Regions from separate parts of the Homo sapiens genome. Here region 1 is linked to region 2. Evidence: fine-mapped expression QTL. Tissue or cell type: neutrophils. Region 2 holds a variant in brackets; the other region holds the start of a gene. All regions are shown on one strand. Distances are between the middles of the regions.

Region 1 (8,930 bases), 20 kb before region 2:
GCTGAAGCCATTATTTCTTAATTCCTTAGTAGATATGCAGAGCGGACATCCCAAAGAAGCTAGAAAAATTGATGAGCAGGGAACAGATCAAATCCTCTCCATCAGTGGAAGGCAATTCACGAGGGAAGAAGGCAAGACCATGGGGTAATTTTTCTGAGACTTGACAATGTTTGCCAAGTAAATAAATCTGCCATTTAACACTACGATAAAAGCTGTCATAGCCAGGGTATTAGTGACTACTTGAGGTTTGAGGACAATGAAGACAGAGTAAGATAAACATCCTTACTATCCAGAAAAAAAAAACGGAACCAGAAGACAGCGCTTCTTACTATCCACAAAAGAAATGGAACCGCAAGACAGCCCTTCTTATTTTTCTCCATCTTCGATGGTGAGGAAGAATAAAAAAAAAGTTGCTTTTAAAGTATATTCATTAAAATCAAATTCTATTATCATACACACAAAATATTTACGTGAAACCAGCCACAAAAGAATGACAAGGAACGCTACTGATTTGTCCATTCTGGGGGATAAGAACACAGATTCTTATCTCACTCTTGTTAAAAGAAAACTTCAGCTGAATTAAATTTAAAGGAGTTTAATTGAGCAATGAATGATTTGCACATCGGGCAGCCCCCAGAATTACAGCAGATTCAGAGAGACTCCAGTGCAGCCACGTGGTGGAAGATTTATAGACAAAAAAAGGGAAGTGAGGTAGAGAAACACCTGGATTAGTTACAGGTTGGCATTTGCCTTATTTACACACAGTTTGAACATTCAGCAGTGTATGAGTGATTGAAGTACGGCTGCTGGGACTGGCCGAGACTCAGCAATTGTGACAGGTACATACTCCTAATTTAGGTTTTCAATCTTGTCTACCTATTAAGTTAGGCTCAGTTTGTTCACAGGGACTCCAATACAGAAGTACGGAGTCCTTCTCAGGCCATATTTAGTTCGCTTTAACAATTCCCCCTTTTTGGTCATTTTATCAGTTTTGAGAGATTGATCGAAACTTGAGTTATTGATGTCACTGTCACCATTGGTCTTGAAACCCACTAGGAAGCAGAACAGTGAGTTTTGCAAAGGTAGGAACAAGGACTGAGTTGAGGATACCACCTTATGCTGGAAAGTCCTGTTTGCAAGAGAAAAACAAAACCTGGTCTATTCTAGGACCCATGTGTTTCCTTAAAGTCTTAATTCGATTATGTCACATTTAGCACGAATGATGCCATTTTGGTTCGGTTTGGTCTGTTGGGACCTAGTGCTCAGTCCAAAACAATGGCCTCCCATCATTTTGTTTAAAAAATTCCCCCTTTGTCAGGTTGTCACTTAGGCAAGAGTGTGACCAAAACTTAGGATGTTAGCGCCACTCTCCGTTACTATCATTTTGGATTTCCAGTCTCAGCATGTCACTCATCGGTTTCGGTGTCCTCGTGGTCACACATTTCTTTCAGCTCTTGTCATTCCAGTTGAAGAGAGACCATCTGACGTTCTAAAGATGGCTTCATGCAAACATTTAAAACCTTTGAGAGAATACAGTGCACCAGGGAGACTATTCTTATGACTACTGAGAGGGTTAACACCAAGAATTTGGAGTATGCTCCTTAGCCAGGGTCCCCATAAACCAGACCACCTAAACTCAAATAGACCATTCTTTGACTTAACTCAGTGGTCTTTTCGTTAATTCCCTACAACAGACTCTCTATAACACCTGATGTTTTCTCCATAGGCCTTAAGTGCCAGCATCTGCACAGGTACTTTCCTGTTTAGCCAATTCTATTTTTTAGCATAACTTTCACAAGAGAATTTAACATCTGTTGTGTAGCCTTTACAGTAGAATCTGCTACAGAGTCTACCATGAGGGATATGTTTCTAGTCATTGCCTTTTTAATTCCAAACCATGGAAAAAGGACCTAACAAATGATGCCCTTCTAGAAGAGGGAAGGCCTCTTGGCAATGGTCTCTTTAACCCATGCTGTGGGTTAAGAGGAGTGAACCAATGTTCTGCTTCTGAATGATTATGAGGCACCATATGTACCATTGAAGTTTCTCACCTATGATACACTGGGCCTTCATCTTTATCTATCAAGTTATAAGATTATCCATGTATAAAGCTGGCTGCAAAGCCCTTCACAAATAAAAGTATACCCCATAAGTGCACAAAACAGACCCCCTTCTCACTTCTGTTGTTCACAGAGGCGGAAGCAACGGAAAAACATTCAAAGATAAGAGTCTCATGATAGTAAGAAGTCTTGATCCATGATCTTCAGAAAGAGCTGCTCACATCAAGGATGCCATCTTCTTCTGGGGAGAAACTTCCCTGATTAGCTTTACCTTAAGGGTTTCAATGGATGTAGAGTTCCAAGAGTGACCCTGCTCAGTTGTGAGATTATGACCCCAAGGTTCAAGATCCTGATGTTTTGTTGCAGTGATGATGCCAAGGGCAGCGTTTCTCTGATGTTCTCAGAAGATCCCATCTTTGGGTTCTAGATTGTGAAGGGGTTGATTGTCCTCAGTGAACCATAAAAAGCTCTTTACCTGGTGAAAATACACTGATACATAGTAATCTACTGTTATAACATTAGCCCTCCTGCATGGGAAAGCTTTAGTACAACCAGAACACATACATTGAAAATGACAACTGAATGAAACCCCTTTATAAATGTTTAAATGCCTCATCAGGTAGCCAAATGTACATGAAGCTTTGATTGACTTCCCAGGAGTATGGGTTTGACAAACTAAACATTGTTTATAAACTATTTTAACAATCTGTAAGTCACCACACCAACATATTTAATTTGGATCATTTTATCTTTTCCAGGATGAGTCATGGAATGCATAACTTTTAATAACAAAAGCTTTAAGGACTCACGAAGGACAAGGCAGCCATCTTGGTTCTCCATGAGTCCATGCTTAACATCGGACTTATGTCCTCTTGGGTGCCAGTTGTTTCTCCAAATTGGGCACATAGCATGGATAACTGATGGGTTATCACAGGTAATTTGACTTAGACCATGGAGTTCATTCAAATTGTATATCTAAACAATTTCAGTATAGGCTGATTAAGTATGCAAACCTGGTGAAGCATTTCCTCGGTATTCAATTAATTTTTATTCTATTTGGGTTAGCAGTTTTATAAGCCAGTCAGTCTTTTCATTAAAGTTTCAGCAATTCTTACCCAGTCCAAATGATGTGATTTTGAAGTTACTAGAAACCTGTATTCCACAGTGCTTTTCAGGGTCCTCCCCATCCGTTCACGAACCTCCTAAAAGACACCATGTTCTAGGATTTTTGTGTGCTTGTGAAGTTTTCAGAAACTACATCAGCATGAAGCAATTAACTGCGGAAATGACTTTAAATACTCAAAAAGACACAATTGACAAAGAAATTTGGTTATAACAACAACATAACCATAATTATGATCGGTAGCATATACTCAGAAAAATTAGAATTTTAGAAATCCCATACAACTTTGGAACATATATTAATATCATTCACTAAAATATAACCTGAAGAAGGTTAAATTTTTTTTTTGACACTATTCTGTATCGAAAAGTCCAAAATGTTTCTTAAAAAGTAACTAAAAAAACACTGGAGTAATTAAAGGACACTTCCTGTGCAGGGGATGGAAAAATCTCAACAAAAAAGGAGCGCAGAAGAGCCTGGCTAGGCGGGAGAACACGGTCAGGCCCGCAGGAGACGCCGCGGCACCTGCCAGAAAGAGAGCCGCAGGCCAAGACCAGGAGACGCGAGAGAGGTGGGCAGGGCTGCCCGAGAGACCCAGGCGGCCATTGCCCGCCCTGCGTCTGCGCCTGCGCCGGAGCCTCCTCCACACTGCGCCAGCGCCGAGTCCGGCCGCCTCCTCATTGCGCCGGCGCCGGGGCTTCCTCCACACCGCGCCTGCGCCGATGACAACCCGCCTCTACAGGACGCCTGCGCAACGCCATAGTCACCTCATCAGCTCCGTGCACTTACGAGTCTCTCTCTGATCGACCACGTGTTCCTGTCGGCTCACAGAGGCCGCCTCAGGGTCCTCCCCCATTGTCTTCCTCGCACCCTCCACTGTTCCCGGCCCTTCACTCTGCGCTTGCGCAGGAGTCGCTCGCTCCTCTCTGCGCCTGCGCAGAGGCCACCTCCTCCCCGCCCGTCCGCTCCCTTGGCGTCGTCTTGGGCCGCGCCCCGACCCCTTCTGTTTACGCATGCGCAGGAGCCGCCCTGCGCGGGTGGGGGGCTGAGCCCCTGTGGCTTCAGGTTTAAAGGCGCGAGCGCCACCCACGCAGGCACAAGGGCTCCTAGTCGTTTTATTTTTAGCGTAAGGTTTTCCTCTTTAACAAGGAAGTAAAAAAAAAAGTTGTGCAATAAATATTAATCGTCCTTATATGTACTCGGGAACGTTCGTCCTTTAGGTTTTCTCCTGGCGCATGGGCGCCGCCAATCATTTCGGGGCTTATTTTGGTTCTAAAGCCCGGGGCAGCCAGGCCTCCCTGCCTGGCCTCGGCGGGGACGCGGGACCTGGGGCCCCGGACCGGGCCTAACCGCCCTGGCCGGTCCCCACTGATGGTGGCGGTCGGTCCTGATCGTCCTGATGGCAGCGACCAGGCTGGACTCGGGCTGTGCAGGGGCGAGGGGAGCAGGGCGGGGTGACGCCCGGAGAGCGGCCTGGAGAGCGCGTGCTTCAGAAGGCGTGGGCACCCTGTCCCCTTTGCAGATGGGGATGCAGGCCCTGGTGGCGGTGGAGGGGAGATGGGGGCAGGGACGTTGCCGGGCAGAGGAAGCTGGGTGAGTGTGCACTTGGTCCCCTTTGCTCCTCCCTGGGACTTTGGGCTCTATAGGGCAGCCTCCGAGGCCCACGTGCACACTCGGTGAACCACAGTCCAGACACAGGCAGGGCGGCAGGCCAGGGAAGGAGAGGCCAGGTGTTGGTGCATGGAGAGGCCAGGTGTTGGCCTGGGGGTGCTAAGTGAACCCCCAAGGTCGCGGAGACAGTAGGGCAACAGCAAAACGAGCTCTGCCGTCCAGGGCGAGGGCCCGGAGTCCTCCCCAGGGGTGGGCTGCAGAGAAGCCCCTGTCCAGGCCCTGCTCACCTGCAAAGTGCTCCCGAGCTCCTGTGCCCCCAGCAGCAATCCCAGCCCCGCTGACACCCAAGCTTGTCACCCGCTGGGTTTCTTGAGGTCTGAGGACCGTGGCTGAGGGTGCATGGGCGCTGGGATGGAGGGGGATGTCCTGTCCCAGTCTGTGCTTATTAATTGTTAAAGAGGGCAAGGCTGCTTTTATTCAAGGTGGGGGGGCTGCTAAAGCGAGATGTTGGGTTAGGGGAGGCAGATCCGGCTCAACTCCAGATAGAAAAAGTGGGAATTGACAGCCCAGGCGTAGGGTCGGGAGTGGAGAGAAAATTACTAAGAGGAAGGGTCAGGGGCAAGGCGGGTTCTAGCTGCATAGACAGGATTTTTGCTGAAAAGGCAGGCAGTGTGGTCACAGACCGAGGGTGGGAGTTGAGGACTTTGATCAGGGACCAAGAGTAGACGATTTTCACTAAACCGACTCAGCAGGATTCTTGCTAAATCGGCCGAAACCGGCCAAGGTCAGGGACTGGTCACAGGGAGGGCTCAGAGGAGCCTGACTCGAGTGTGGTCAAAGGAGAGAGTCTTTGTCATCTTTTAAGAGGCGAGAGTGACGTATTAGTGAGAAACGGTGAAGGGATCAAGCTCAGGCCAGCAGCCCCGAGTTTGAGATGAGGACAGGCTGGGTCCAGGAAGGGCTGCAGGAATAGGGGGCACCTGAGCCTGCAGAAAGCGGGGAGCCCAGCCGCCAGAGCAGGCACCCCCAGGCAGACCTCAGTGTGTCCTGCCCTGTGGGAGTGGCAAGGCCAGACCAAGCTGGATGTGAACCAGTCCCAGAACACCGCCTAGAATTTGGATTGTAATTTGTTATCGATGATATTGCTGCTTGGTCTCTCTCCTCTTCCTCCCCACCCCCACCCAAGATGGAGTCTGGCTTTGTCCCCCAGGCTGGAGTGCGATGGCAGGATCTCGGCTCACTGCAACCTCCGCCTCCTGGGTTCAAACAATTCTCCTGCCTCAGCCTCCCAAATAGCGGGGATTACTGGTGCGTGCCACCACACCCAGCTAATTTTTGTATTTTTGGTAGAGACGGGGTTTCATCATGTTGGCCAGGCTAGTCTCAAACTCCTGACGTCGTGATCCGCCCACCTCAGCCTCCCGAAATGCTTTGGGATTACGGGTGTGAGCCGCCGCGCCGAGCATGGCCATCGTGGCTACATCAGTCCCGGCTAATAGAGATTTTAGCACACTCAGATTCTATTGGCTAATAAGATTTAATTATAATTCTGGGGTATTTAACAATGTCGTTATACAGTCTTCATTGTTGCAAATGGAGAATGAAATCGGGTGCATGTGACACTAATATGACCTGTTCATGCTCTGTCACTTAAACGGAGTTAAGTAACATAGCCCTGAGCAGGAAGACTCCTTCCCCACTTCTGTCCAGGAGCTCCTTACTCGATTCTGGGGAACAGAAAGGCTTTCAGCGGCCAAGGGGAGTGACAACAGCCAGACATGAGACACCTCCTAGAGCCCTTTGGTGTTACCCTTTCCGGTCCATCAGCCACAGTGTCCACCCCAGGTAGCTGGGTCCTGAGTTCACCGTCTCAGGACATTTTTCGACCTGGTTTGTCTGAATTATTATTATTATTGATCATTGAGACAGGGTCTCAGTCCATCGCCAAGACTGGAGTGCAGTGGTGTGATCCTGGCTTACTCAGCCTCCCAGGCTCAGGTGATCCTCCCAGCTCAGCCTCCTGCGTAGCTGGGACCACAGGCAGGCACCACCATGCCTGGCTAAATTTTTTGTATTTTTTGTAGAGACCAGCTCTCGCTATGTTGTCCAGGTTGGTCTCAAACTGCTGCCTCAGCCTCCCAAGGTGCTGGGATTACAGGCATGAGGGACCAAGCTCAGCAATCTGAATTATTTATGCAGAATTTTTTTTTCTCTAGCTGGAAGAGCTGTTTATATGCACGTTTCTTTGGGGGCAACTCTTCTCCATTGTCACAGATTTTTTTTTTCCAAGCCATTCCTGGGGGATTCCTGGGAGCCATGTGGGAGAGGCGTGAGGAAGTGAGACCTTCACCCCGAGACAGGTCCTGACACACCCTCTGGTGCCTCTACTCAAGTGAGGTGAGAGGGGAAACTGGTGTATTTTTAGATGAAGTTTCCTTGGGAAATTGTTTCTATTTTATATTTTATCAGTAATCCCCTGGCTAATGTTTTAAACCAATATTTATAACACTGCCTCAGAGCTTTGGAATAAACAGATTTCCATAAAGAAAAGCTGCTTTAGAGTGCTACACTGTAAGAGGGGCCGGGCAAACAAGAAGGGACGGAGGAAAGACCACCAAGTGAGAGGCACAGGTGTCAGGACACACAGAGAGCCCGAAAACGAGGCAGAGGTGAGCGGGGACCAGCAGCACAGCGGCACTGACGCGCCAGGGACTTGGGCTCTGCTGGCCTCCTCCCTCGCGGCCAGCAGTGGCAGTGGTGGGAGTAGGCCTGGCTTGTCTGTGGTTGCCTTTGTTGCTTTAATTGAAAGTACTCAAGGCTATTTCTTGTCGCGTCATTTCTGACAGTGTCCGGTGGTCCCTACCCTGTAATGCCAGGAGGTTCCAGCCCCACCCTTCCCTCCCCACTCCCTCTTTCATCTCCCGGATCCTATTAGAGGATTGCTTTTATAGCTGATGAGCTGATGAAGTATGCATTTAGCCCTTTAACCGTAACTGAATTTCCCCTGGTGCACATCTGTATGAAGGGTGTGCACCAGGGCTGAGCCGTCTGCTGGGCGAATATGTCCCTCCCTGAGGCCCAGGACCACAACCCCTGAGTCACTCAAAGGAATCGTTCCCAGCCTTAAGGTCAGATGCGCTTTCTCCTTGTCCTCCATTATTTCTTTAAATTCCTGCCACATTTAAGTTTCTTTATATTTAAACTAAGACCTTTTATTTCTTAAACTTCTAATTGCTGTTCTTTTATTATTTTTGATAGAAGTTTGGCTGCTGTAACTGACTGGGAAGCTTAAAATAACAGACAATCATCTCTCACATTTATGGGGACTGGGAAGTCCAAGACCAAGTTGCCATCTGGGGAGGGCCTGTTCCTCACAGCGCCTTCCAGCTCAGGCCTCGTTTATAAGGGCACTCAAGCCTTCCACGACAACGGGTCCTCATGACTTACTCACCTCGGAAAGCCCCACCCCCAAGACCATCACATTGTGGGTGATGGCAGAGCATAAGGTGCCTTCCCCACATGCTCGGGTTGGCCCAGCGTCTCACGCTAGCAGCTACGTGGAATAGTTATTTTTTCTGGAGAACTCTGGGACCCCTCTGATGTCTTGGAGCACCCACACAGGCCGTTCACTGTGCACGCTGTGAGGCTGTCGTCTTGGAGCACCCACACAGGCCGTTCACTGTGCACGTGGTGAGGCTGTCCTCTGGGGAGTTCTGCTGTTGTATGGGTTCTGTCTGTGTCAATGTCCCAGCGGGAACGCAGGGCACACTAGCGTCATCCCCAGAGGGCTTGGTAAGGGGACTGTTTGCAGAGACATAGGCAGAGGGCTGGAAAACTACCAAAAAAGTGCAGTGTTCTGGACCTAATAATAGCAGAGCTATTCTCACCCTGGTCTGAAGGCAGGAGGGGAGGAGCAGTTAATGGATTCTGGAAGTCAGGTTGCACAGAGTCACCTTGAAAGATGCCATGACCTTCACCGAGGGCCAGACAGAGACTAAGATGACCCCATAGGAGAATAAGACCTAGACCTCATCCTCCTGCCTCCTGCCAGTCCCTGCCAGGGGTCGCCAATGGCAAAACAGGACTGGAAGCCAGAGGCCATGGAAGCCCATGGATGAAGTCCACAGGCCAGCCTC
Region 2 (8,526 bases):
CACGATTTTACCCTTTTGAAAATTATACGTTAGCAACCATAAACTGTTCTCTAAGTACATACAGGCAGCAGCTTAAAATCCTCCTGTGGGCTAAAGGCTGGGCAGTCCTATCAGGGCTGTGATGGGGGGAGGTGGCTGGTTTGTGGAGGAACTTCCCCTCCCTCCCTCCCTCCTTCCTTCTTTCCTTCCCTCTCTTCTTCCCCCTTCCCTCCCTCCTTCCCTCCCTCCCTCCTTCCCTCCCTCCCTCCTTCCCTCCCTTCCTCCTTCCCTCCCTCCCTCCTCCCTTCCTCCTTCCTATTCTCTGTCCCTCCGTCCTTCCCTCCCTCCCTCCTTCCCTCCCTTCCTCCCTCTCTCCCTCTTTCCCTCCTTCCTTATGTGAGACATGTGAGAGTCTCACCCCAGCCTTGGGGGACACAGCAGGACGCAGGCAGTGGGTGTAGTGGCCACTGGGTGGGCTGGAGGGGGCTGCTCAGAGGAAGTCTCTCTGAGTGCTTGGGGAATGAAAGGCCTTTAATGAGTAGAGACCGGAAAGGAGCAAATGCTTGTGTGTTTCTCAAGAAAACAGTGTGAGGGAAGGCACAGAAGCAGCTGGAGGAACAGGAACAGCTGGGGAAAGGGCACGCGTGGCCAGACAAGGAGGTCTAGAAGAGGCAGTGCCCTCACTCTCTGCACAGACCTCGTGCTGGGGATGGATGGAGACCAAGAGTCTGACCTTCTAGTGGGGGGTGTTTGAAAGCCCCTTAGGGCCCTGCCACCTGTGGTTTGGTGTTGACAACACCTGCTCTTCCCTGGGGGATCCGTGGACCTCCCTGCATGGTGCATGTGGCAGGGCCCTGTGGCTCCAGAAAATTCCTGGCCACCGTTGGGGTGCGGGGCAGGGTCAGTGTGCCCGGGTCCATGCCAGGCCACCGCTGCCCCCCAGGCTCACGACAGGACGGCGAGTGCTCCACACAGGTGGGGTGCCCTAGTTCTGTGCAGGTGCACGTCCGAGTGTGGCCTCTGAATCAATTCCCTGAATCAGCCCCACAATGGGGATGTCTGTGTAGACACAGCCCCTCGTTCCCAGCCCTACCAGCAACCTGAAAGGAGCCGTGTTCCTCGAGCCTATAAAATTAACCCCTTCAGCTGGCTGCTTACCCTACAGTGTCTCTGGTGAACCCACAAGGCCCAGCCCTTCCCAACTGGCCAGGACCTGACCCAGGAGCTGGTCTGCGGGAAGGCGTGGGCTTAGAAGGAAGTGGGGTGTGGGGCTCACGGCCCCTTCCTGAGGCTGCAGCTGCCCTGGGGAGGCCCCTGTGCTGAGACATCTTGGAGTGAGGGTGTCCGCTGAGAAGAGGGCTTAGCCGAGGCCCCTGGGTGGAGGTTCCTGGTGTTCACCCACCCTCCCTTCCTCCCGAGACCTGGCCGGCTGGCGTCCCCTTTGGTGCCGGTTGGAGGCTCTGCCTGCAGGCTGGGCTCCTCCCCAGTGGGAGCTGGTGTTCCTGGTATCACAAGAGCGTCTCCTGCTTCCTCTTCTTGCACAGGCAGGACCGTCAGGCCAGCCTCAGAGCCCTTTTCTTCTCCCAGCTCCCCCAGAAGTTGCCCCCTAATCACCCCTTCCAAGGACATTTCCCTTATTTTCCACTCAAGACAGCGCGAGGCCATCCCTCCTGCCCCCGTGTCAGAGCCCCCGAGGCCCCCAAGGCAGACACGAAGCTCATCCCGAGAGGGACCTCGTGAGGGCTGCGGTGGCCCAGCGGGAGGTGCTGCGTCCTGACCACACACATCACAAGCTCCAAGTCAGCACCTGTGTGAGGAACAGGCTCTATTCACGTCTCTCAACGTGGAGAATGAGCTTCTACCGTGCTAGGAGCTTCCTTGCCTGCTGTGCACTTTCGTCTGATCAGCAGCCAGATGCTTTTACAGTGTTCCCACAAGGACAGCGAGCACCAGGACCCCACCTCTCGATTGTATTGTGTCCAGTTCTACTGCGACTCCAGGATAGCCCCTGAGAAAGGAGAACACAAACACACAGAAAGGGAACATCAGCTCTGCCCTCCCTGAGCGCCTTGTCTAAGTCTGAGGGTGGTGCCACCTCTGATGGATGCTGAGGTATGGAGCCTCTGTCATCTATGACCAGACATATGGGGCAGGCAGAGATACACAAAGGCCTGCAATGGGAGCAAACACAGGCTCTGCACAGGAGCCTCCGGTGGCCTCGGGGCCAAACGTCACTGTGTCCAGCGGGTGGGGGAGCTCCAGGCTGCCGGCAGCCGGCCGTCCTACACGTCAGGCTAGAGGAGCACCCGTGGCTTCTCTGGCTGGGCCTGAGGTGGGAGTGATGTGGGGAGGGTGGTGGTAAACAATCAGAGAAACTGGCAGTGTGGACCAAGTCCTGACCTCGGGGCAGCTGCTGCAGAGGCCCTGGCCAGAGTCCCATGGGCATCCTCAGTCCGGCTGGGGTTGGGGTGTCCCTGGAGGGTCCGTGTCCCTGGAGGGTCCGTGTCCCTGGTGGATCCGTCTCCTGGAGGGTCCATGTCCCTGGAGGGTCCATGTCCCTGGTGGATCCGTCTCCTGGAGGGTCCGTGTCCCTGGTGGATCCGTGTCCCTAGTAGATCCGTCTCCTGGAGGGTCCGTGTCCCTGGCGGATCCGTCTCTGACCGCGCGTGCTCTTCACCATGGAAGGAGGTGCTGGTAGCCAAGCCGCCCTCCCCAAGTGGGCGTCCACTTTGAGGAAACGCGTGTGTGAGTCCCCTTGTTGGCTGGGTGTCTCCGTCTAAAGGGACAGCTGGAACTCCCCACAGTACAAGGTCTCACCAGGGCCCCTCAGATCCCACACAGCTGCAGGGATGTCCCTGCTGCCCGAGGTCTGGTGAGAGGCTTGATGGAGGATTCTGCCAACCCCCACCTCAAAACCCTCACAGCAGCTGCATTTTGAGGTTTTGTTCAATTTTATTTGCAGGTCTTCAAAATGAAAAAAATTTATATGTACCAGGCCAGGTGTGGTGGTGGCTCATGCCTGTAATCCCGGCAGTTTTGGAGGTCAAGGTGGGCAGATTGTTGAACCCAGGTCTTTATGGCCAGCCTGGGCAGCGTAGTGAGACCTCACCTGTACAAAAAATTAAAACGTAGCGAGACACGGTGGCAGGATCGCTTGCGCCCGAGAGGTCAAGGCCGCAGTGAGATGTGATCGCACCACTGCACTCCAGCCTGGGTGACAAAGTGAGTCATTTCTCTCTCTCTCTATCTATATATATAATCCAGTGAATCTAAAGCATTTCCACGTTAAAAGTCACAAGGATCATTTCAAAGGAAAAATGGACCTGAGCTACTCTCTGCCTCAGCTCAAGACCCTGCTGGGGAAATCGTTAGGTGGAGCCTTTGCTGGAAACAGCACCATCAGGTCCGCCTGTGCCCCAGCGCCCGGGGAACACAGGCATCCCTCCCCTCCGGAGGGCCTCCCCAGGCGGTAGAGACCAGTGCATTAGGCAGAGGCCTCGGTCCTGCCCGGATCTGCCATCTCCTCGTTGTGTGGGTTCCAACCTTGCTTTAATAGCTCCCACACCATTACCAGGAAATGGATCCACTTACTCTGTGCGGATGAGAATTCCATTAATGTTCGCTCTGACCTTTGCTAATCCCAGCGTCATTCGCAGTGCCTCCATCTCAAAATCTCCTTAATGCCAAAGGCGGTAATGGGTGTCTGCTGTGCCTGCCTAATGAGCTGTAAAATGAACCAGTGGGTGATTTGTTTCTTGCCGTCAAGACCCTGGTTAAGTGACGGCCAGGACGGTGGAAGGAAGGCCGGGGGTCCTGTCCCCCAGACGGCACTCCAGACATCAGGCTCTCGGATCACAATTGATTCAAAGGTAAAAACACGTTCATGCACACACCTGGTTTTCCATTCTCTTAACATTTTTTTCTCCATAATTAGTTTCTCCAGCATCATCTTGGGAGAATGTTGACGTCACTGATCTTGGTTTCTCGGATGGTGATGAATCTGGGCAGGGGGCTGGAGTGGAACCTGCCAGCCCCTCCTCAGCCCGGGCGCCCGACCTCAGCTCCCTCCAGCCCTGGACTCTGTTTTCTTCCAAGACTGGGCCCTGCTTCCCTGCACCACGGTCCGCCTGGATCCTGCACACCCAGCCCGGTGGCTCCTGCCCACTCAGCGGGGCCCTGACGCCCTACATCTCCTCTGTGAGCAAAAGCTCTCTTGTTGTTAGAGAGACTTGCGGAAGCCACACACCCATAGACCGTTACTTCTACACATTCTTTTTATTTCACACAGATCTGCATCCCTTGAAGTACTCACGGGGACGTATTCCGCATGGTTTCCATCTTAGTGCACATAGAACACGGTTTTAACTTACAATCGGCACTGTCTTCTCAAGATCTGTCACTTTGAAAACGTCATTGCCAATAATTGTACATATTGCGTTAATTTCCTAAATCACTATTCACCATCCATCCTTCAAATGCTGAAAACACTCTCTTGATTCCCAATTTAAATACTTTTACAGGCAATACCACAAATGCCTTTAGAAATGGAAGTTTGTCTTCTTCTTGTTATTTTTGTCTCTTGTTTCTTCCATCGAATAATGGCCTTGTCGAGTTGGTGAGAGTGAATCACTTGTGAGTCTTGATTTCCAAAGAGGCTGAGCAGATTTACAAGGCCACAAACACCTACTTCAGATGAGACCTTTGGGGTCTCTCAGGAGGGGCGAGAGACAGAGCCGGTGACTCGCTGGGCGCTGACAGGACCCGCAAGGGTTGGTTCGTCAGTATCCACCACCCCCTTCCTCTCGCTGATGCTGCTCTGAATCTGACACTGTGGATTGGTTCGGCTGCTGTAGGATTTTCTACAAACGGAACATGGACAGGTCCTCTTTGGGTCCGCCCTTTGGTCTCAGCATCATGGCTGAGACAAGTCCTGTCGTAGCTATGTCAGAGTGGCGGGGTCCTCACTTCTCACT[C/G]CTGTCCAGATTCTCCTGTGTGTACCCCACAGGCTGTGCACCCGCTCTGCCATCAGTGGGCATCTGGGGCGCATGGCAGACCATGTGCATGTCGGCCATGTGAGCCCATGTCCTGGTGTCCACCCCATGCAGCCTGTCCCGGGGGTGGCCTGAGGCTGCCTTGCCTCCCCTGGGCTGAGGCTGGGACACCTGTGGCCTGTCTTACCCTTTTGCTGGCGTCCTCTGGGGAGTATCCAGAAGTGAGGGGCCCCACGGAGAGGCGCATGCAGCAGGAACCCCAGGCAGTGCCGGCAGCCCCAGGAGAGAATCCCACCAGCCGCCATGCGAGTGAGCTTGGAGACCACGCAGTCGGGAGAGGCCGCCCGGCCACAGAAAAAAGTCGTCCTGTTGTTCAGGATCCAGGCCAGGGTCATCTGCTGAGCAGCAACAGACAAGGAAAACCGCCGTTACGGGCACTGCTGCCATCTCGCAATTTACATAAAGTCTCAGCTCTGTGCGTGGGACAGCAGCGTTTGAAGCTGTCCCCATCAAGGGCCTGTACAACCACCTCCTTCACAGTTAGGGGTTGGCCGTCCTGAGGCTGCCCGACCCCCTCCCGGCTCCCCGACCCCCTCCCGGCTCCCCGACCCCCTCCCGGCTCCCCGACCCCCCTCCCGGCTCCCCTTGTCTGGGAAGCAGCTCTCTCCAGTGTAGCCACTCAACACGGCTGGTTTCATTGCAGCAGCGCACGCCCACCTGTGGCCACCCCGGCCTCCTCCCCGACACCCACACGGAAGGCCGTGTCCCCTCCCCTCCGTGTCCTGGGCGCAAAGGGCGCCCGGAGTGCCTGCGTGTGGACGCACAAGCCCAGGGCCACGGCGCTGCAGGGCAGCCCTTTTCTCACTGCAAGCCTGCACCCTTCTCTCACTGCTTTCCAGGGGGAGCTCTCTCAGGTCCAGAGCCCCACGGCTCACACCTCCTCTCCTGCCTCTGGCTTCCTGTCTTCAGGAGGATATTTCAAGTTCCAAGAAGGTACTCAGTAACTTCTTTGACTAATATTATGTTGAGAAATGATCATTTTACTTTCAGGTGCTTTTTAAAAGCTACATTCACAGAAATTTTAAAAAATCTCAATATGCGGTCATCTGCGTTTTCTGCTGGGGCACGCTTCAGTTCTGTGTTGGACACTGCGGAGAGTAGAGGGCTGGGCACAGCATCTGCACGGAGCCGGGCGCAGCACCTGCACGTGCAGACAGGGGAGGGCCCCTGGAGGGCTCAGCTCCCGCGTGAGGGTCCAGCCTGGACACAAGGTTGAGACGCACATGGGGACAAGTGGGAGGTATTGGGTGGGGCACAGGGGCTAGGAGGCCAAGGGCTTGCTCCTGGAATTCTATACAGGCCTGCAAACCCTGCTCAGTGGAACACCACACCAGACACAGTTCTGGGGCTGGAGGAGCCGCAGCCACCCCGGGACCCCCACCATCCTGGCATCAAGGGCCTCAGACTCTGCTCTCTGTAAGCTCCCTCTGGAGGGAGCAGAGCCAGTGAGATCTGGAGAACAGAGGGTACCTGGGCCCTTCCTGGAGAGTGGGGGACACTTCGTGTTCGTGGGAACGTCCAGCTGCCATGAGGGTCCCTGGGGCAAGCTGGAGGTACGTGCGGAGAAGGGGGCCAGCTCCTCTCAGGCAGCCCACTCCAGCCTATCTGTGACACTGGCTTCACGAGGGGAGTGAGGAGAGGGATGCGGGCCCTTAGCAAACCAGGAAGCCTGAAAAACACCTATTGACAAGAGCGGGTCAGAGGAGCTGGGGAGACGGCCCAGGTCAGCCCAGTTCAGAGGGAGAGGGCCCAGGTCAGCCCAGTTCGGGGGGAGAGGGCCCAGGTCAGCCCAGTGCGGGGGGAGAGGGCCCAGGTCAGCCCAGTGCGGGGGGAGAGGGCCCAGGTCAGCCCAGTGCGGGGGGAGAGGGCCCAGGTCAGCCCAGTCCGGGGGGAGAGGGCCCAGGTCAGCCCAGTGCGGGGGGAGAGGGCCCAGGTCAGCCCAGTGCGGGGGGAGAGGGCCCAGGTCAGCCCAGTGCGGGGGGAGAGGGCCCAGGTCAGCCCAGTGCGGGGGGAGAGGGCCCAGGTCAGCCCAGTCCGGGGGGAGAGGGCCCAGGTCAGCCCAGTCCGGGGGGAGAGGGCCCAGGTCAGCCCAGTCCGGGGAGAGAGGGCCCAGGTCAGCCCAGTCCGGGGGGAGAGGGCCCAGGTCAGCCCAGTGCGGAGGGAGAGGGCCCAGGTCAGCCCAGTGCGGAGGGAGAGGGCCCAGGTCAGCCCAGTCCAGCTGAGGCTCTCGGAGGACAGGACCCGCCCCGCGCTGCCAGTGCCGAAGCTTGGGTTCTCTGAGGACTGCGAGGGGGTCTCAGCACTGTGTCCACAGATGGGGCAGGGACCTCCGCAGGGAACCTTCTCTCGGCTGGGCCAGCCCACCCCAGGGGCTGTAGACGAGGGAGTTAATGAACACGGGATGGGTTGAGCCGCCTGGTTTGCCCACAGAGGGGCGAGGAAGGGAGTGGGGAGTCTGCTGTGAGCGGAGAGAGGACAGCCTGAGGCCTCAGGAACGCTGGCTGCCTGCCTGCAGCGGGAGCTAACGGGGCGTCTGTCGGGAAGGGGCACGGCCACAGGATTTAGGGGCAGTTTGGACACACTGGTCCGGTGAGCTTGATTTCAGATTCCGGGATCTGGTTTCGGAGTGGAGTTGTGGACTCTCCAGGACCCATCGCTGAGGAGCAGGAGGTTCTCCAGGGGCCATGGGGCCCGGGGCTCTGAGGGAGGCTCTGCACTCCCAGCATGAGGTCACCACAGGGCTAGGCCAGGGCCCAGACACAGCAAGCCACCAAGAGGAGGCCGGCCGGCGTGGAAGCCTCGCAGAGGGTGAATTCCAAAGAGGGCCCCTCCTGCTCTGAGACCCACACTCCCGAGCCACACTCAGCAGGTGACGTGCAACAAGACCCTTAGGGTTAGGGTTAGGGTTAGGGTTAGGGACCCCAGGCTCCATGCATGCCAGGGAGAGGCAGCGGTGTGCGAGGGCCTCCTGGTGCCTGGCAGACCAGGAGTGAATTTTGGCTGTCACCTTCTCTGAGTTACTCCAGTGTAGAGAGGCAAGGCCTGGGTCCAGGGTTGTCTCAGTCTCAGTGCAGCCCCTCAGAATGGGGGGCCCATGCCTAGCACCCTGGGTGGGGAGGAGCAGGCAGCTAGCTGGAGCTTCTGGCCCTTTTAAAAGAGGCCCCATTCCCTGGGCCTCGAGGGAGTGGCTGTGCACATTCAGACATGCACTGACCCATGTACACACACACATACACGCACACGTGTATGCACACTCACACGTATATTTGTACATACACATGTGCATACATCCACATGTACAGGTACACACAGGTATGCACGAAGGAGGTTCCCAAACCCTTTCTGCACCCCTTAGCTGCCTTCCAAAGGGACACGTCCTGATTTCCCTGTGGTGGGACACTGAGCATGCCCAGCTTCTGCGGGGCCAGGTGACGCACACGAACTCAGGGTCTGCTGAGGCAGGTGCATTGGCGACGGTGGACAGCAGAGAAGTGGG

The links.
Region 1: it holds the start of LINC03015, and the variant in region 2 is fine-mapped to the expression of LINC03015 in neutrophils (BLUEPRINT, PIP 0.95).

The regions. Positions count from the first base shown.
Region 1 is chr7:145,357-154,286 of GRCh38, forward strand. It overlaps LINC03015 (long intergenic non-protein coding RNA 3015), which reads right to left and starts at 4,082. Exons shown (of 3, transcript NR_134325.1): 1 at 3,973-4,082; 2 at 3,176-3,262. LINC03014 (long intergenic non-protein coding RNA 3014) reads left to right here and starts at 4,362. Exons shown (of 2, transcript NR_108065.1): 1 at 4,362-4,776; 2 at 8,053-8,930. RefSeq lists an enhancer at 3,813-4,107.
Region 2 is chr7:165,937-174,462 of GRCh38, forward strand. LOC105375116 (TRIO and F-actin-binding protein-like) reads left to right here and starts at 7,235. Exons shown (of 4, transcript XM_017012903.3): 1 at 7,235-8,526. The variant C/G (reference allele first, on the strand shown) is at 4,953.